2 separate regions of the Homo sapiens genome follow, and region 1 is linked to region 2. The links come from fine-mapping of genetic effects on gene expression. Tissue or cell type: whole blood. Region 2 holds a variant in brackets; the other region holds the start of a gene. All regions are shown on one strand. Distances are from middle to middle.

Region 1 (10,594 bases), 270 kb before region 2:
AAAAACTGATTATTGTAAAACAGCAATTAATTTCTTACTGCTTTACTTGAACATTCATGCTTATTAGTTTTCCAAGTAAATAAGTTAAATGCCTTGTTAAACTTCCTTTCTGCCAGAAATGTTGTACCATCTGTGTTCAACATGGCAGCATTTTCTTATTTAATGCATATGTCCCCCCTTTTTTGGAAGTGTGTTAAGAGCTTTAATATGACAAGAAACAGAAATAAAATAGTGAAAACACATTGTGTTTCAAACATGAATGTAAGATTCAGATTTGTGACATTCAGAGAATTTGGAATTTCATGTACCATCATTAATTTTATGGCAATTATATGAGTTCTCAATGTTAGAAAGAATTTTAATTCTAATGTGAATCCCCTTTTGGCTTGGGAAAGCTATTTTATTTTATTGTCGTCCAAGCTGGAGTGCAGTGGCATGATCTCAGCTCACTGCAACCTCTGTCTCCTGGGTTCAAGTGATCCTCCCACCTCAGCCTCTCTAGTAACTGGGACTACAGGCTTGCGCCACCGTGCCTGGCTAATTTTTGTATTTTGAGTAGAACAGGGTTTCAGGGTTTCACCACGTTGGCCAGGCTGGTCTGGAACTCCTGACTTCAAGTGATCTGCCTGCCTCAGCCTCCCAAAGTGCTGAGATTACAGGTGTGGGCCACTATGCCCGGCCCAAAGATTTTATTTTAAATGGCTGTGTGAAATGCCACCTTATAGATATGCCATTATTTATTTAACCATTCTCTATAGTTGGTCATTTAGGTTATCTACAAATATGTGTTAGTATTCCTGCAGAGACCCACAAGTAGTCTCTCACTAATACCTAAAGTGAAGGAATAGTTTATTGAAGTTGACAAACACTGGCCCTTCACAACAGAATTGACAAAAGAAGTGGTTCACTGCTTCCCTTCTGTTACAGGTTAGTAGACAGATAACCAGAGGTAGTCTCCGTCTTTTGTCCATTTGTAATAAGATCATCCCAACCATGAGGCTTAGTGGTCGGAACTCATACTCCCAGTGCCTGTGGATGGTGCATTTTTAAATCTTTTCCACTTCATATCATTATTTTCCTCCAAAATGGTGACTATATTTCAATTTTTCCAGCCTTAGCATTTCTTTTACCTATCAAAAACATTTTTGTGTAATTCCTCCAAATAAATATTGTCACTATGCATTGCTGATTAGAAAAGAACAGCGTTCTTAACTCTGATAGCAAATATCGTATCAGGGAAAATAAACCATTTTGGAGCTCAAGGAATTTAGCATCAAAACAATGGACTCTAAGATGCACAGCACCTGACATATATGTAGGAGGTGCTCTGTAGATATTTGTGGAATTAGTGACAAAACCCCAAGGAAATTATCCCTTAAGAGAAACGAATGGTTACTTCTAATCTTACTACAGCTACCAGTTAATATGCCAGCCTTCAGGACATTGGTTTAAAGACCTGAGGCTATATATATTTTTTTCAGATTATTACTTTCTATGGGCTAAGTGAAGAAAGGCTGTTTCAGGTTGACAGCAGTACCTCCTAATAATTCAGACAAAGTTTTGGAAACGGACAGTTGTTGGGGAAAGGGAATGTGAAATACGAAGTGAAGTGCCCTGACTGAAAAATCAGCATCCAAGTTTTTCACTTACTCATTAAATGGAACTTAAATTATCTATTTTGACAAGTAAAAATTTAAATTTAAACCCGAGATCTATCATGTGTTGGTGAGGGGTAAATGTAGAAATTTCTGCCTGGGCATTGATCAAAGGGAACCATCCCTCAGTCTTCCTGTTAAGGATGAGGCAATAGTTACCCTGAAAACCAGGCACAGAAAAGAACATCACATAGTTTTGTGAGATGGACTTTGTAAGGATAAATTTCCTTTTTCATTTTAATTGTCCTTACTTGACATGAGACATTTTTCTTCCCTATTTCTTCCCAGTTCAGACACATGCAGCAACTAAGTGATAATCAGTAGAAAATACCTTCAAAGCAAGCTGCAACCACAAAACACAAGGAAGGAGAAAAGAACTTTTTCCCTTAAGCAGAACCAGGGATGACCTAAATACTATGTCACCCTTCAGAGATGGCAACATTTACATTTTTGACTAAAAAAAAAACAAAAAAAAAAAACAGAAAAACTTCTTTTGTAATCTCTTCTTTCATTATCTTATTACCACTATCATTGTTTTATGTCTGTTTTCTTGATCTTTTATTTTATTTTATTTTTTTTTAATTTTTAAATTTTTTTGAGATACAGTCTCATTCTGTCGCCTAGGCTGGAGCAGTGGTGTGATCTCGACTCACTGAAACCTCCACCTCCGGGGTACAAGGGATTCTTCTGCCTCAGCCTCCTGAGTAGCTGGGATTACAGGCACCTGCTACCACGCCCAGCTAATTTTTGTATTTTTAGTAGAGATGGGGTTTCACCATGTTGGCCAGGCTGGTCTGGAACTCCTGACCCCAGGTGATCCACCTGCCTCGGCCTCCCAAGCTGTTGGAGTTACAGGCATGAGCCACTGTGCCCGGCCTATTTGTTCTTTTAATTCAAACCTTTATTTGGTTCAGTGGAGTTCACCTAACTATGATTACTAAGATCTGCGGGTTGACTGGAAGGAAATACACTACGAAGTTATAATGGTTATTGCTATAGTGGGATTACAGGATATTTATAATTTTCCATCTGTGTTTTGAGAAGGTTACTAATGGGAAAGCAAAAAATTAGAGCTACAGCCCTGGCATCACCACTTTTATTATGTGCGCTGGGGCAAATCAGCATCTCTGCACCTCTCTTTTTCTAAGTTAAAGGGGGTCACCAAGGTGATCTCCGAGTTTACTTTCAAGTTTAACGTTCTGTGGGTCTAATGGAAAAGACAGTTTAGCTTGATATAACCCTTGTGGAGCACAATTTGGCTGTGCCTTTCAAAACTACGAATGGGTATACCTGCTGACCCAGTGACTCCCATTTCTGGAAATTGCTCCTATATATATACTTGTACAGATATGAAATTAAAGTTATGCAAGGTTATTTCTTTTTTTTTTTTCTTTTGAGACGGAGTCTCGCTCTGTTGCTCAGGCTGGAGTGCAGTGGGGCGATCTTGGCTCCGCTTCCCGGGTTCACGCCATTCTCCTGCCTCAGCCTCCTGAGTAGCTGGGACTACAGGCGACCGCCACCACGCCCGGCTAATTTTTTGTATTTTTAGTAGAGACGGGTTTCACCGTGTTAGCCAGGATGGTCTCTATCTCCTGACCTCATGATCCGCCCGCCTCGGCCTCCCTGCAAGGTTATTTCTTACAGAATAGTCTATGATAGCTAAAGACTGGAAACAAGTGAAATATTCACCAACATCCTGGGGTTCAGTAAATTGATATTTAGATACAACAGTGTGGTGGTTAGCTGTAAAAACCCTTCAATATATATTTTTAATTTTTTGGACCTATGTGTCAGGGACATTGGTGTTATAGGTTCTCTGTGCCTGCCTCGTCAATTTTTTTAAAGAAAGACCAAATAAAAGTAAACTATGACATTTGAAGAAACAATTGGGCAGGAGAGCCTCAAAGATTTCAAGGATTTGGGGAAAGTCTGTAGGAAGACTCCTTTAACCAAATAAATATTCTCTGACGCCCTGAAAAACCGGAATAGAAATGAAGGCAAGGCCAAATTTGAAGCTGGCTTCCTTTGCCAAGAATGATCCAGTAGGGCACCGCCTATTTTTAGGGTGCGGCTGTCTGGATCGGGGGCTGCTTCTGCAGAGTGTAATTGGAAAGGTGGGGGGAAGCAACAGCTGTACTTTGGGGGCCTGCCTTTGAGCTCATCATCTGAGTTACTGAGGTCCCCTAGCGGCTGTCAGAGGAGGCCCAGACTGTCCAAATTTGATAGTAAACGTGAAGAGACCACAAGACCAGGGTGGGAACCAGTCCCCGCCCGTCCCCAATCCATCCGGCTCACGCTCCCCACCCCACCCATGCCTAGTATCAGCAAGAAGCTGTTGTGATAAATAGATTATGAAGAAACAGGAGCCCGGACTAGAGAGACGATAGTGAGAATATAAAAGAAGAAAGATAATCTCTCTCAATCTTTTTAACTTTTGTAAGAGGCCTAATTTTTCCTTTTTTCCCCTCTTTTCTCTTTTATTTTTTCAACAACCTCTTGTCCAACTGACTAATTTTCTCTAGATGCCACTTTTTCCATTGCAGAATTACTTGTAAGAAAGAAAGGGATTAAAAAACAAGAGTTGGAAGCTGTCCTTTTGGACAAGATATTTAAAACCCTACTGTCCATCTTCCATCCTAAGTGGTCCCATCTTTCTAAAAGGAAATGCCTTCCATATTCTTCCTAAAAAAGCAAAAGCATAACAAAACAAAACTGGAAAACTGTTTCTTCTGCTTGAGACACAAGGGCCATTATCTTCCCACCTTTGGCCCCACTGATCCTTGACAGGATGTCCTGGACCTGCAGCCCAGATGAGGAAAGGTGGGGTGTGGGTGGGGGGTTGACTGACACACACAGCAAGTAGCCTCAAGGAATTTGGGGGTGGGGCAGGCTGCGCCCCAAGGCTTTGGTCCTATCTCCCGCCCCCCTTGCGTTTTTACTTAACACCCGATCACTTCCGTTGCAAATAAAAAAGAAGTAACAAACAGCTAAATTTAATTAGGGATAAGTAATAAAATGACCTGGTTCTCTCTAACTGCGCTCCTGAGCCCTTCGCTGCCGGCCCTGGACTTAGTGGACGGAGCGGGAGATTCCCGCCCAGGGGAAGAGGTTCCCACGGAGGGCATGCGGTCGCGGGTGCCTTTGGATTCGTGTGTTCAGGGAGGCCAGATAATCTCCTCCCCGCGCCGGAGCCCCTGTTCCTCATTTCTAGCATTTTAAAAAAGGTCAAGAATACAGTGAATCCGGCTGGGGGCTGCCGGCTGGGTGACGCGCCTCTGGCTAGACCGAATGGCACAGGCTGAGCCCGGGGGTGCGGACCGGTGGGCACGGAGAAGGGTCCCTCGGCGCGGACTCGACTGCAGGAGCCGCGGCGCCGGGGGTGGGGGGCGTGTGCCGCTCGCGAGGGGGCCGGAGGACTTGACAGATCGCAGCGAAAGAAAACATTAAACCAAAACAAAACCCACCGATTCCCCACGTCGTTCAGCAAAGACATCGTGGGTGGAGCCAGGAGGGAGCGATTGAGTAGAATTCCTCGCGGCCGCCTCCGCCCGCCCACCCCGCGCCCCCGGCCCTCGGCCCCCTGCCCTGCCAGCCCGCCGGGCTCGGCCCGCAGCGGAGGTCAGGGAGCAGCGAGCGCCTCCTCCCACCCGGGCTTCCCGAGTACTCGGCTCTGCTGCTCCGTAGTAAACAAAGTGTCGCCGGCGCCTCCACGCTGGTTTGCTTCCTAGCAATCAAAACACTGAGAAGGCGAGAGAATCACAGAAACACTCGAGAATTACCAGAAAATAATAGAGATCCAAAAAAAAAAAAAGGAGGTGAGTGTGTGAAAGAGAAAAACACCCCACTACCCCCCACCAGCCCACCGCCGCCTCCCCGTGGAAAACCGGGCCCCACCCAGCCCGGCGCCCACTGGCTGCCCGGGCGGCGGTGCCGCATGCCCATTGGCCGCGCGGGCTGTCGGTCAGGGGCGGGCCGGCGCGCGCGCCGCCGCGGGCGGGGGGCGGCGGCAGATCCCGTAAGTCGGGCGGCCTGGTAGTCGCAGCAGCCGCTGCCGCAGCCGCCACATTCAACAGGCAGCAGCGCAGCGGGCGCGCCGCTGGGGAGAGCAAGCGGCCCGCGGCGTCCGTCCGTCCTTCCGTCCGCGGCCCTGTCAGCTGGAGCGCGGCGCAGGCTCTGCCCCGGCCCGGCGGCTCTGGCCGGCCGTCCAGTCCGTGCGGCGGACCCCGAGGAGCCTCGATGTGGATGGCCCCGCGAAGTTAAGTTCTGGGCTCGCGCTTCCACTCCGCCGCGCCTTCCTCCCAGTTTCCGTCCGCTCGCCGCACCGGCTTCGTTCCCCCAAATCTCGGACCGTCCCTTCGCGCCCCCTCCCCGTCCGCCCCCAGTGCTGCGTTCTCCCCCTCTTGGCTCTCCTGCGGCTGGGGGAGGGGCGGGGGTCACCATGGCCGAGGCGCCTCAGGTGGTGGAGATCGACCCGGACTTCGAGCCGCTGCCCCGGCCGCGCTCGTGCACCTGGCCGCTGCCCAGGCCGGAGTTTAGCCAGTCCAACTCGGCCACCTCCAGCCCGGCGCCGTCGGGCAGCGCGGCTGCCAACCCCGACGCCGCGGCGGGCCTGCCCTCGGCCTCGGCTGCCGCTGTCAGCGCCGACTTCATGAGCAACCTGAGCTTGCTGGAGGAGAGCGAGGACTTCCCGCAGGCGCCCGGCTCCGTGGCGGCGGCGGTGGCGGCGGCGGCCGCCGCGGCCGCCACCGGGGGGCTGTGCGGGGACTTCCAGGGCCCGGAGGCGGGCTGCCTGCACCCAGCGCCACCGCAGCCCCCGCCGCCCGGGCCGCTGTCGCAGCACCCGCCGGTGCCCCCCGCCGCCGCTGGGCCGCTCGCGGGGCAGCCGCGCAAGAGCAGCTCGTCCCGCCGCAACGCGTGGGGCAACCTGTCCTACGCCGACCTCATCACCAAGGCCATCGAGAGCTCGGCGGAGAAGCGGCTCACGCTGTCGCAGATCTACGAGTGGATGGTCAAGAGCGTGCCCTACTTCAAGGATAAGGGTGACAGCAACAGCTCGGCGGGCTGGAAGGTGAGTGGACTCGGCGCGCGGCCGGACCTTGGGGGCGCGGTGGGTCAGGCGAGGGCGCAGCTGTGCAGGTTTGCTCGGCCTGAAGGTGCGGAGCAGGAGGGCAGCGCGTTCCCAGGAGGGCGGGCGAGAAGCGGTGGTCGCGGTGGCCTCGCCCGGGTCCGGTCGGGGACGGCAGTAGGTGTGCGTGCGCGCCAGTCAGGAGTTCGCGTGGGACGCGGTAAGGGGCTCGTTGGGGAACTAAGTAAAGAAAGTGCGCCAAGAAGTGGACGTCAGAGCGAGGCCGAAAAGTTTGCCAGTGAAAGGAGAAAGGGGTTCGCTGGGAGCGGCAACCCCCGGCCCGCGCCGACTGCTTCGGCTGCCCCTTCCCTCCCGGACCTCCGCGGGGGGAGGGCGGGTTCTCTCCGGCCGCGCCGCGGAGCTGTTTCCGCCGGGCGCGGCGGGGGAGGGCGCGGCGAGGGGCCCCGGAGCCTCGCTGCCCCGGGACCGGGCTGCAGGTGGAGGGGACAGGCAGGGCGCGACCGGCCGGGGACGGTGCAGGGCCTGCCGGGCAGTTTCTGGAGGCGGTGCGCATTTTGCTTTGTTTTGGTTTTCTCCGGAGTGGCCTCGAGTGCCGGGGGCCCGGCGTCCCGAGCCCGAGGTGGTGCCTCCGACACGTGCGAAGGGGCGGCCACCGCCTGCGGAGCGCCGGCGCCTGGCCGCGCGGGGCGAGCTAAAGTTCAAGTGTGACCCTCGGCGGGGGCGGGCGCGGGCGGTGGCGGTGGCGGTGGCGGTGGCGTGGGAGGGGCCCCGGGCGCAGGAAGCCCGCGCCTTTAAAGGGCCAGCGCGTCGGGGCCGGGCGCCGTGGGGCCAGCGTTTCTCCATGCGGGGAAGCGCCCGAACTTGGTCTTGCCCCTGGTAGGAGGCTTTTAGTTAGAAACACAGAGGCTGCCCTGAGGGGCCGGGGGCTGGGATGTGTGAGTCTTTTCCTGCCTTGCCACCCTATTCTTGAGCATGGAGGACCAGGCGGGGGGGCTTTGCGACCAATGTTTTGAGGGAGTCGGAGTGGCGGTGCGCGTCGAGGGAGCGGTGCCTTGAAGGAGGATTTTTGCCATTTTTGCCTTTCAGAGCGTGGCCAGGAGAGACTTAGCGTGGGGGCAGGCACTTCCCGACTCCGAGGAGAAGGCCCGGGGGCCCTCGGCTCCGGGGAGGCTTCCCGGGGGCGGGGTCCAGTCGTGGCGCGGCCTCCCCAAGCTGACAGTTTCTCACTGTCACCGGTGGCGGAATTGCTGTAAAGGCTGTCTAGTTGAGCTAAACACCTCCCTCCCCTCCTCCGAGACGGAGTCTCGCTCTGTCGCCAGGCTGGAGTACCGTGGCGCGATCTCGGCTCACTGCAACCTCCGACTCTCTGGTTCAAGCGATTCTCCTGTCTCAGCCTCCCGAGTAGCTGGGATTACAGGCACGAGCCACCACGTCGAGCTAATTTTTGTGTTTTTAGTAGAGACCGGGTTTCACCATGTTGGCCAGGATGTTCTGGATCTCCTGACCTCGTGATCGGCCCGCCTCGGCCTCCCAAAGTGCTGGGATTACAGGCGTGAGCCACCGTTCCCGGCCGAGCTAAACACCTTTTTAAAACATACCTTTCTTCGCCTCTCATATTGGACTCCACGGCATAATAAAGATTGGTCTTTGCTGCGCAGTTGTTAACACCAAGGTTATTTTACACACAGTGTCATCCCTGTGGTTAATGCGTGTCAAAAGGGTTAAGTTACTCACACCTTATTGAAGTTCCTTTAGAAGGAATTCAAGATTCATTTTATTTTTTCCAAAGTGTGTTTTAGAGTAAAGGTATCACTTATCGCTTCATTACCAGGCATTACATGCAATTTTACCAAGTGTTTCAAAAAAGTAAAGTGCCTTCTTACCGTTAAGTTCAGCATATATTCTATTAAGTCACAAAATCGAAATTGTCTGCCAAATCTTGTTTTACTTAACATTTGAATTTAAGTACTTGACTTACTTGCTCATCTATCAATTCCACTTCAGCTGTTACAGAGTATTAGCCATTTAAAAAAAAAATCCTCCCCCCTTTTTTTGCATTCAAAGTACAGTGTGTACTTACACCATTCTTTAGTCCTTGGAAATGGATACAACCTACTTCAACTTGCTGGAGTGCCTTTCTTTAAAGATAAAGGAAGTGTTTTGGGATATTTTTAGTTTTGCGTCTCAAATGGCATTGTCAGAGTGTTAGTCTTAAACTAGGAATATGCTTACACTTTTTAAGATTTAGGTTTTTAAAAAATAGATTCTGATGTTAAATCATCTTTACAACCATTTTTATCAGGTTCTTGTTCTGATTTTTTTAAAAATGCAAGAATAATTTAGTTTTTTTTTAAATTTATTTGCCAGAGCTAGGAGACCTGTTAAGTTATCTGTCTGGAATTGGAGGCCCTTGGGCAGCTCCCAGTGGGAGCCTAATGGGGCTTTGCTTTGGAGTAGGCTGCCTTTCTCAAATGAGTAAGTGTTTCAGGTGTAATGTCAGTTGGTTTAAGTCTGATTGCAGCAAGTACATTTTCAGTTTGAGTAAAAGGGTATTTTAAGAAGAAAAGAAACAACCTGAGCTGTTCTAACTCATAACTAGTCTTTTGGTTAGTTTCATAAAAATGAGTTACTTGTTAAAACCAAGTTTCACTCTCAGATCTGAAAGACTCCTGTTCTAAGAGTCATAAAAGAGAAATTTTACTATGAATTTTAACTTAAATCCAGTTTTTAAATGCAAAGCAACCAAAACTTAACTGTTTTAGGACCGAGGAGAGGTTGCTTTGGCACAAAATATTTCCTGTGATTTACTACTGGGAATTAGGCTGAATCTTTAATTAAATAGTTTCTTGTGTGCTGCTTCCTGGGGCCTGCCTGAAAGTTTGAGTCATTTGCATAGGACAAACTAGTTGGAAAACTGTTAATGAATTCAAAAACTTTTAATGTCATTCTTTAGATAGTTAAGTGCTGGTTATATTTGAAGGATATGCATTTTGTGTTTGTGGGGATGGTATGTTAAATGTCTTACACTTGTTGTAATATTGGCTAGAATTGCTATAAGGTCACACACAAAGTGGAACCTAAGACTTTTGGAAAACCCGGGATCTTCTAAATCTAGTGCAGTATTTATAAATAATGAAACTTCATTTCCATGACCTGTTTTTTCACATAGAAAGCCTTCTAAAGCTTGGGAAGTGGTAGTTTGAACTCTGATTTTTTTTAATAAATGGCAGTTTTGAGTTGACTCTTTTGATATTATTAGGAACACTTTAGGTTAAAAGAATGACTTTGACTATACCACTTAACTCTTGTTAAATAAATTTTTAGATTGTTTTATTAGAGGTATCCTCTTTGATTTAAAGATAAATATCTTTTTTTTTTTTTTTTTTTTTTTTTTGAGTCAGAGTCTCACTCTGTTGCCCAGGCTGGAGTGCAGTGGCGCAATCTCGGCTTGCTGCAACCTCCGCCTCCCAGGTTCAAGCAATTCTTCTGCCTCAGCCTCCCGAGTAGCTGGGACTACTGGCACGTGCCACCATGCTTGGCTAATTTTTGTATTTTTAGTAGAGAGGGGGTTTCACATATTGGCTTGGCTGGCCTCGAACTCCTGACCTCGTGATCTGCCTGCCTTGATCTCCTAAAGTGCAGAGATTACATGCGTAAGCCACCGTGCCTGGCCCCAAAGCTTTTTATTTTTAAGATAAATCTTTAATTGGGAGTGATGTTTCTTATTTGGCCTATGAACTGACAGTGGATTTCCTTATGTTTTGAAATAAATATTCTGTAATTTGGGTATAATCTATAGGTGAGTAATTGAACCAGCCACAGAGATCCCGTTAGAAAGATGGCTGCTTTTTTG
Region 2 (10,594 bases):
TGTCATTGGTGGTAGGCATTAGGAAGAATGAAGCAGTATAAAGAAATAGGGTAGGGAGTAACCCAGGCAGGGTGCTACTTTGGGAAGAGTGGTTTAAGCACAGCCTGGCCTAGGAGGTGACAGAAGAGACCTGAGTGAAATGAAGGTGCAAGCCAAGAGGATCTTGAGAGAAGAACATTCCAGGCAGATGGACAGGCAAGTGCAGAAAGCCTCAGCTGGGAACATGCTTGGCGTGTCTGTGGGTCAGCCAGGTTTTCCTGGACTGCAGTGGAGTGGGAGAGGGTGACCCAGTAGGAAATGGAGTTTGAGAGGGAGACAGAAGCCAGATCATGTAGCATCCTATTGGCTATAGTGAGGACTTTATATTTCAAATCAATTGGGAAGTCATTGGAGGGTTTTGACTTGAGAAGTGTCACGGTCTTTGCTACATTTTTAAAGGAGTCACTCTGGCTCCTAGGTGAAAAATAGACTGCAAGGGCCAAGAGTGGAAACAACATGGCCAGTAAGGAGGCGGATGCAGCAAGAAACGAAGTCAGGATGGGAGACAAAACTGACTTGGGCCAGGGTGATATTGGTGGAGGTAGGGGAGTGGTGATTCTGCTTGTTACTTGAAGGTAGTGCCCAAATGTGATTGTAGTTAATACCGTGACTTTCTTGTAACATGGTGGTGGCCATGTGTTTTCTCTCACAGCCTCCCCCTGTGGCCTCTTCACTCCCATCCAGGTCGATGCCAACCCAGCTGCCTCTCATCACTTCCACTTGTATTCACAGAGGCATGGGGAACTTCTGGGCCCTGACCTGCAGTCCACCAGCCATGGAGACCCAGGCCATGTCCTCCAATGATCCATCTCGTCGCATCCCATGCCTCCTGGGCACCACTGTTCCTGCTTCATGTTGCAAATGGCAGACTGCCCTGGAAGGTCCCAGCAGCATGCGCTCAGCCGATGGTTTGGGCTCCCCATACCTAACCCAGTGCCTGTAAAGCCCCTGAGACCCCCTTTGAGAGATGTGGGACTTAGGGGGTGGGGATCACATTCCTTGTCCCCAAATTTCTCCCTCTCTCTTTGTCTTCCTTCTTCTCTCCATTCATCAGGAGAATGGGTGAGATGTCTCTCAGGTAGAACTCCGGGAGCAGGTTTGCCAGACTTGCCTTCTGAAATGTTAAAGAAAGGTAGAAAGAGGGATTGAGGAAACCCCTTTCTCTCCTAACAAAGCCTTTCTGCAGGTTTGATAATCCTATTGTAGATGCTCACGTTGAACCTGTACCTTTCTCTTGGTGTTTACTTTCACATCCTAGTACTCCGCCCCCAACACCCCTCCACTCACTAGGAAGAAGGACATTTACAGAGAAGTGCAAAAAACAAAAGCACATAACATACAACATAATTGAACATCATCACTTTCACCAGTTAGGGTAATGTTCACCGTACACGGAGTTGCCTCTGTTGGAGGTGGCTCCAGGGCGGGAAGGGCTCCATTCCTCTGCACGGCGCCAGGCCTATCCCTTTCCCTGATTGTTTGGCTGAGGAAAGTTTGGAAAATCTCCAGAAAACAATTGTTAAAACTAATCTGAAACAGGCTGTAAGTGGCATGGGAGAAGTGCGAGGTGTGGACACGGGCAACCCTGCCATGAGATGGAGGTCTCTGAATGTCGAAAGCGAGTGATCTGCAGATGTACAGTGCCCACGGGGCAGTCAGCCTTTAAGGGCAGTGTGGGAACATGCAAAGAACAGGACCCCAGGCTCCCGTTGCAACCAGGTCAGTCCCTGTTTTCAGCACCACTGGGGCGGCCTCATGGGGAAAGAGGGTACAACGGGGCTGGAAGTGAGTTTAATGGGGCTGCGATTCGGAAGCTGAGGGTTTTAGTCCAGCAACTGCTTAGTTGTTCCCGTACAACTTCATGTTGTTAAACTACAAGGTTCAGTCCTTGATCAGTTAAATAGGAACAATGCTGTAAAACCTCTGTCCAATCTACTTCACAAGCCTCCTGGCAATGCACATAAAAGGGCTGCATACATTCCTAAGCTGGGACCAGGAAGGGTGGGAGGCAGACGTTATCCTGAAGACAGACAGAGAGCTAGTCGTCTACATTTTACCATGTCACCTGCCTGGGAACCCTCCGCACTTGCCTGGGCCTAGGGTCCAATGGGCTTCCTGTCTCTGACCAGAGGTCGGGAAACAGCTCTGTGCGGGAGTTGGCCGATCTGCTGAGTGGGGTCGTCCTGGGGTTGATATTTGTTCTTAGCAACAGGCATTTCAAATGCACAATGCATGATTGTAGCCCTTGGAATGCAGCATTTTTGAGCAGCGAAGTACAGGTTGCCAACTGTAAAATATCACCATGTTCACACTGGTTCTAAAGACAAGCGGAGAGAAGGGAATAATTCTATATTAAGACAAACCTTGCAATCTACCCTCCAGAGCCTTCTGGAAGAAATTAGGATCATTTTAAAAAGGGCTGCATTAACACAGTGGGGCATTCATTCCTTTTATTTTATTCCTTACATATTCACAATTGGAAAATTTTTATCATTCTGGAGTTATTAAGTAGTATGGGGGAAGGATTACTTATTTTTGCATGTATTTTTGAAGGAGGCTTTCCTTATTTCTTTTCATGTTAAAAAATTTACCCTTTCTGAAGCCTTTTTTTTTTTTTTTTTTTTTGGCGTATGTGTGTTTCGCAAAACTTGGCACGAGCATGAGAGGCTGACCTTTAACTTGAGGAGGAGGAGGAAGTGCAGTGAGGGGCAGCTGCGGAGGGCGTGGAGGAGGCAGGATGACTCAGTGTCTCTGTAACGCCCTCCTCTCCCCTCTCGGCCCTGGGCCAAGTGTGTCCAACCAGTGCTGCATCAGAGAAAGAAATCCTGCAGAAGTGACCGCTGTGGTAATGACAGCATAAATAGTTCCTCTTTTGAAGTTTTAATGCTCCTGAAGCTGTGGGAGAAACAGTCAGCTTTCAGATTCCTCCCTCGACTACTGGCAAACCGTGAAGAACTGTGTTTTCTCTCCAAGACACACCAGAGTGGTTATAAGGGCAAAGAATGATTGGACTTTAGAAGCCGAAAAAGGACTAGAGGCAGACAAATGGACAGCATTTCAGGGTGGCCCTGGGTTCACAGTGACCTTGAACCTTCACCTAAGTTTTTGGCAGCTGAGTCTCCATAAGAGGGGACAACTGCATTTACTATCGGAGAACTGCAGTTTCTCTCTCTGGCTGAGTAGAGTTGGTCTCTGTCTATGGGGCATCCTGTGGTCATCTCTCTCTGCAATGCAGGAAGCTCTGTCTGCCTGCCCCCTTTCCTACCTAACTGAAATTGAGGGGTAATTGCCTCCTGCACCCATATTTTCGAAATCTCAACTCACATACACACCATCTTTTGCTCTTGACTTCATAACAGCAATAGTAGAATGTCATTATCTTTGTCAGCAATGGCAAAATCAGCAAAATGAGCACTTACTGTGTATAAGCCTGGTCAAAGATAACAGACGCAGAGAGAGAGAGAGAGAGAGAGAGAGAGAGATTCCTTCAAGGGTCTTACAAGGTATTTGAGGATGAGACCATTATTCTTTCCCCAGCACGACACTAAAACTCTTCTCAACAAAGTTGTAAGTGACCTGCTAATTGCCAATCCCAGCAAACACTTCCCAATACCTTCCTGAAATGGTTGACGTGACCTCATTATTTGAACACCCTTCCCTGAATGGCCAAGACAGCACCCTGCCTTGGCTCTCCTGCTACCTTCTCACACCACACCCTGAGGTCAATTCTTCCTCCATCTGTCCCATAAATGTAGCTGCTGTTTCTCAGGGTTCCACCTTTGGTCTTCTTGTCAGTCCTCAATTTTCTTTTTTCTTAGTTACTTTGCCTAATCCTGGAGGATGTGAATTTACATTTTAACACATTTCCTAGAGGTACTGATATAAATCCCAAGCAGTTTTGAGACTCTCTGGACTTCTTCATCCTTCTAGTTCTTAGCATCTGCATCTATAAAATGGGGATGATAATGGTACTTGTTTCATTGGACTGTTGTTAGGATTCTATGTAAAGCACTTAGAAGAGTGCCTGGCACATAGGCAGTTTTACATAAATATCTGTTGTTAAGTTTGGGCAAAGGCCTAATAGAAAATAAGTTTTTGAAGGAAAGTTGGGGCCTTTTGCAGAGACAGATGGTTCTTTCCCCAAATCTAGTCTCTCCTTCTTCCAGAATCCCCCTGTGGCACCCAGTATCCCTGGCCTCTCCATGCTACAACAGTGGCTATGTTTTTCTTCAGTTCAATATAGCTAGAATTGTGCAGGAAAATTCCTCAAAGTATTTCTCTATTTCATGGTTACCTGCCTCTCTTGGAAAGGTGGGAGAGTGTGAGAAAGGAGGGAGAAGAAAAACTCATATTTACAGAATACCCACTGTGTATTTAGTAGCAAATATTTATTGAGCACCTCTAGTTGTCAGGCCTTTTACACTTCATGTCATTCTTCCAAGAACCTTATGGGGAGGGTATCCTCCTGCTCATATTGTCAGCAAGCACTCTGGTAGGTGCTTATTTATTCCCGCATATGCATTGGAAAGCAGGTTATTTTTTAAGGCTTTACGATGGGTGGTTCTTTCTCAGCATTGTGTGCATTTGATTCACAGTTGGCCGACAGATAATGAAATTCTCCAATGCTCTGATGTAAGTCCTGGAATTATGACTGCGTGTGGGGTTGGACATTGTCTCGAGTTCAGCACCAAATGATGTTTACCTGCTTGTGGATGCAGTAAAGTCTGCCTCCAGTCACAGGCCCCAGTTCTTTCTATACCTGGATCTTGATGTAGAAATATAGAACTTGGAATACTGGCTCAAACTGACATCCATTCTTCATTCATTCATTCATTCATTCATTCAACAAAAACGTAATACGCTCTTGTTTGGCTAAACATTGGAATTGCAGAATCGAAAATCCTTTGCCCCTGCCCTGAAGGAGCTCACATGTTGCATAGCATTCCCAGGATCAGAAGATAGGTCCTGGCTGGTCATGGTGGCTCATGCCTGTAATCCCAGCACTTTGGGAGGCCAAGACCGGTGAATCTTCTGAGGCCAGGGGTTTGAGAGCAGCCTAGGCAACATGGTGAAACAAAAATACAAAAGTTACAAAATACAGAATTAGTCTGGCATGGTGTTGTGTGCCTGTAGTTAGCCGGGCACGGTGGTGTGTGCCTGTAGTCCCAGCTACTTGGGAGGCTGAGGTGGGAGGATCAACTTAGCCCAGGGAGGTGGAGGCTGTAGTGAGTCATGACTGCACCACTGCATTCCAACCTGGGTGACAGGGTGAGACGCTGTCTCAAAAAAAAAAAGGTAGGTCCTCCTCAGCCAGGTCAAAATCAGTTATCAAATACCTGGAACTTTGTTGTGTAACCCGTGGCTTCTGTGCAATTTTGCTTTGTGGTTGTTATTACAAAATTTCCTTCTTTTGCTTTGTATGACATCGGTG[C/T]CCTTGAGGAATAAGAGGCTTGAGAGCTGGAACTGTGTCCCCACCAACTGGTGCAGTGTCTGCCACATAACATATTCAATGGCTGCTTGTTGAATTGATGGGTGAGATACAAAGACTATTCATTAATATTAGTATTCATCCTCTGTAGATGCCAAACATGAAGCCCAAAGACATTGACTTGACAGTATATTTGGAATATGCTAGGATTTAGATTTTCTGATTTCTAGAAGTTAATTCTTTATAAAATTATTTATTTATTTAATTTTTGACCTCAGGTGTACAGGGTTGAATTCAACATACTTTTTGGGTCATGAGTCACCAAAATTATCATGCTGTGCATGGCCTGTCTGTTGGTTACATTTTATTTATTTTTTATTTCCTTATTTACTATTCTCTGTCCGCTGACACCCACTCTAATTCATTGTATGAGTCCTTAGATATGTATATTTTTGGAGGCTGTACAGTGTTTGGACTGTGTATGTGTAGTGCTTAATTTCCAAGCATTTTTGGTGCTTAATTTCCAAGCATTCACAGATTTTCTAATTCCTTTCTGTCATTGATTAAAGAATAGACACTGTAAGATTTCAGCCTTTTGAAATATTCCCAGGGCATGGACTAGGATCTATTTTGGTAAGTTTTTCAAGCAAATTTCAAAAGACTGCGTATTATTTAATTTTGGGGTGTAGTAACTAGTGTATCTCAGTTAGGTTAAGTTATTTAATTGTGTGGTTCATATATTTTATATCTTTATTGACTTTATGTCTGCTTTGAGAAATATATTAAATATATTAATGTATTAAAATCCCCCACAAAGATTATGCATTTTTACTTTTTTTAGTTTTGTCTTTTTGTTTTATATGTTTTGAGTCTATGATGTTAAGTGCTTAGAAATTTAAAATTGCTGTATCTTCTTGGTAGAAGCTTTTACACTTATGAAGTGTCTCTATTTCTAGAAGTGCTTCTTGCCTTAAAGTCTACACTATCTAATATTAGTATAGCTACATCAGCTTTCTTTGGGTTAGGATTTGTATGATATATCTTTGTCATCCTTTTACCTTCAACATTTCTATTTCTTTATATTTAAGGTGGGTCTTTTGTCAGCAGTATATAGTTGAGTTTGGCTTGATTTCTCAGTCTTTCAAATGGAGTGTTTAATTGGTTTGCATTTAATGTCATTACAGGTATATTTCAGTTCATCTCTACTAAAAATACAAAAATTAGCCGGGTACGGTGGCGGGCACCTGTAGTCCCATTTACTCAGGAGGCTGAGGCATGAGAGTTGCTTGAACCCAGGAGGCGGAGGTTGCAGTGAGCCAAGAAAATTTCTGCAAACATATTAAGCATAGTTATTTTAAATTCAATGACGGACAACTCCATTGTCTGAATTTCTTCTAGTTATTTCTTTTTTCCCACTTCTTGGCTTCCTAATAAGTATTTTCTTCTCATTTGCCTGGTTATTTAAAGGTGTGTTTGTGTGTGTGTGCTAAAATAGACAAAACAAAATTTGTCGTCTTAACCATTTATGTGTACAATTCGGTGGCATTACTTACATTCAAAATGTTGTGCAACCATCATCAAAACTTTTTCATCACCCAACCAGAAATTCTGCCCCTGTTGAGCAATTACCCTCTGTTCTTGCTTTCCCTTGGCCCCAGGTAACCTCTAATATACTTTCTGTCTCTATGTATTGGCTTATTGTAGATATTTCATATAAGTGGGATCATACAATATTTGTTCTTTTCTGTCTGGCCTATTTCACTTGGAGTAATGTTTACAAGGTTCATCCATGTTGTAGCATGTATCAGAACTTCATATCTTTTTATGATTAAATAATACTCCATTGTATGTGTATATCACATTTTGTTTATCTATTCATCTGCTGATGGATACCTTGGTTGTTTCCACCTTTGGGCTACCGTGAATAATGTTGCCTTGAACACTGGTGTTCATATATTTGTTTGAATTCCTATTTTCAGTTTTTTGGGTTATATATTTAAGAGGTGAATTGCTGGGCCGCATGATAATTCTACATTTTTTTTTTTTTTTAGGAATTGCCAACTGTTTTTTGCAATGTCTACACAGTTTTACATTCCCACCAGCAATGTAGGAGGGTTCCAATTTCTTCACATTATTGTCCACATGTTATTTTCTCTCTCTTTCTGTGTGTGTGTGTGTGTGTGTTTGTGTGTGTTTTCAATTATAGCCATCCTAGTAGGTATTAAGTGGTATCTCATTGTGGTTATGATTTGCATTTCCTTAATGACTGATGGTGTTAAGGATCTTTTCACGTGCTTACTGGCTATTTGTATATCTTCTTTGGAGAGATGTCTACTCAAGTCTTTTTTTTTTTTTTTTTTATAATGGGTTGTCTATTAGTTGTTGAGTTATAGGAGTTCTTTATATATTCTAGATATTAGACCTTTTAAATATGTGATTTGTAAATATTTTCTCCCATCTGTGGGTTGTCTTTTCATTCTGTTGATAGTGTCCTTTGATGAATAGAAGTTTTAAATTTTCATCAAATCCAGTTTGTCATTTTTTTTCTTTTGTTACCTGTGCTTTTAGTGCTATATTTAAGAAATCACTGCCAAATCCAAGGCCATGAAAATTTGTCCCTATGTTTTTTTTTCTAAGAGTTTTATAGTTTTAGCTCTTATGTTTAGGTGTTTGGTCCATTTTCAGTTAATGTTTGTATATGGTGTAAGGGAAGGATCCAGCTTTATTCTTTTGCATGTGGATATCCAGTTTTTGCAGTAGCATTTTTTGAAGAATCTGTTCTTTCCCCATTGGATGATCAAAAATAAGTTGACCATAGATGTGGGAGTTTATTTCTAGGATCTCATTTCTACTCCATTGGTCTACATGTCTATCCTTATGCTAGTACCAAATTGTTTGGATTACTGTAGCTATGTCAATCAAGTTTTTATATTGAGAAGTATGAGTTCTTCAACTTTGTTCTTCTTTTTCAACATACTTTTAGCTAATTGGGGTCCCTTGAAATTCCATATGAATTTTAGGATGAGTTTTTCTATTTTTGCAAAAAATGCCATTGGGATTTTGATAATTAATTATTATTGGTTAGTTTTTTATATATTGGACCACCCTTCCATTCCTGGGATAAATCCCATTTAGTCATTGTGTATAATTCTTTGAACACGCTGCTGAACTCAGCTTGCTAGTACAGTAACTTCTCAACATCATCAACACATCCTTGGAAACTGTGACTTTAAGCAAAATGACCTAAAACAAAAACAGGTGTTTTTTTTTTTTTTCATTAAAATTAACATACAATGAAGTTGAACAGGAAGCATTATTGAAGGACTTGCTGTATGTCATTTTGCTTAAAAGTCACAGTTTCCAATAACTTACCCATGACCTTAAGTGAAGACTCTCTTTAATTCGTTGAGGACTTTTGTATTTGTATTCATAAAGGATTATTGGTCTGTAGTTTTCTTTTCTTGTAGTGTCTTTGACTTTGGTATTAGAGTAATGCTGGCCTTATATACAATGACTTAGGGAGTGTTCTTCCTCTTCAAGCTTTTGGAATAGATCGAAAAAGACTGCTGTTAATTCTTTTAAAAATGTTCAGTAGAATTCACCAGTAAGCCTTCTGGTGTGGAACATTTTTTTTGTTGTTGGAAAATTTTTTGATTATTGATTCAATTTCTTGTTATGGGTCTGCTGAGATTTTCTATGCTCTTGAGTTAGTTTAGGTAATATGTGTGTTTCAAATAATTTGCCCATTTCTTCTAGGTCAGGGGTCCCAACCCCTGGGCCATGGACCAATACTGGACTATCGCCTGTTAGGAATTGGGCCACACAGCAGGAAGTGAGTGGTGGGAGAGCGGGTAAAGTTTCATCGGTATTTACAGCTGCTCCCATCTCTTGCCTTACTGCCTGAGCTCCGCCTCCTGTCAGATCAGTGGCAGCATTAGATTAGGAGTGTGAACCCTATTGTGAACTGCGCATGCCAGGGATCTAGGTTGGGCACTCCTTATGAGAATCTAATGCCTGATGATCTGTCACTGTCTCCCATCATCCCCAGATGAGACCATCTAGTTGCAGGAAAACAAGCTCAGGGCTCCCACTTGTTCTACATTATGGTGAATTGTATAACTATTTCATTATATATTACAATGTAGTCATAATAGAAATGAAGTACACAATAAATGTAATGCCCTTGAATCATCCTGAAACCACCCCCCAACCCTGGTTCATGGAAAAATTGTCTTCCATGGTGCCAAAAAGGTTGGGGGCCACTGTGCTAGGTTATCTAATTTTCTGGCATAAATTATTCATGATATTCAAAGAACATAGTGTGTATGACTTTAGGAAATTTATTGAGGTTCCTTTGTGAGATTGTACATGGCAGATTTTGGTGAATATTTCATGATTGTTTTAAAAGAATGTTTTCTTTCTTTCATGCAGAACTGTATATACCTAACACTTGAGCTTAACAACTATTTATATTTCTCTACTTTTATTTGTCTCTTTGCTCCATCAGTTCCTGAAAGGGGCTTATTAAAATCTAACCACAGTTGTTTTATTGCATTTTCTTCAGACTTGGTTTATGTTTTGAGACCACGTTGTTAAGTACATATACATTCATTTTATCTTCATATTCTTCTTGAGTGTTTTACCAATTTTTAATATTCCTCTGGTTATTATTATGTTTTTTTACAAAACTTTGTGTGACAATTAATTATGTTGGCTTATTTTTGGTTCAGATTTTTCTGATTAACTTTATTACATTTTTAATGATTATTAAAAGGGTGCCCTGCAAATGCATAATGCTATATAAATAAAAAAAATCTAAAAAAAATCTAATCTGATTGGTGAGTTCAACTCATTTACATTTGTACAATTCCTGTTATATTCTTTATTTTTTATAGAGATGGAGTCTCCCTATGTTGCCCAGGCTGGTCTCAAACTCCTAGCCTCAAGCAATCCTCCTGCCTCAGCCTCCAAAGGCCTATAGGGGCTTCTTTTCTTTTAGGTTCTTTTTCTGTGTCCATGATATCTGCTCCCTCTGGCATACATTGTTAAATGAGCTGTTGTTCTTATTTAATGACTCATTTTTCCTCCTGAATCATATTGCCTTGGAACTGTATTAGGGATCCTTTC

The links. PIP is the estimated chance that this variant, and not a neighbour inherited with it, causes the effect.
Region 1: FOXO1 starts here. The variant in region 2 is fine-mapped to the expression of FOXO1 in whole blood (INTERVAL, PIP above 0.99).

What each region holds. Positions count from the first base shown.
Region 1 is chr13:40,661,712-40,672,305 of GRCh38, reverse strand. It overlaps FOXO1 (forkhead box O1), which reads left to right and starts at 5,665. Exons shown (of 3, transcript NM_002015.4): 1 at 5,665-6,723. The coding sequence starts at 6,094. RefSeq lists an enhancer at 4,777-4,826 and silencers at 5,477-6,006, 6,237-6,376, 6,467-6,516, 7,037-7,546, 7,847-7,926.
Region 2 is chr13:40,394,763-40,405,356 of GRCh38, reverse strand. The region is part of intron 6 of LINC00598 (long intergenic non-protein coding RNA 598); the gene reads left to right. Among named protein-coding and RNA genes, the nearest start is that of LINC00598, 81 kb to the left of the region's middle. The variant C/T (reference allele first, on the strand shown) is at 5,471.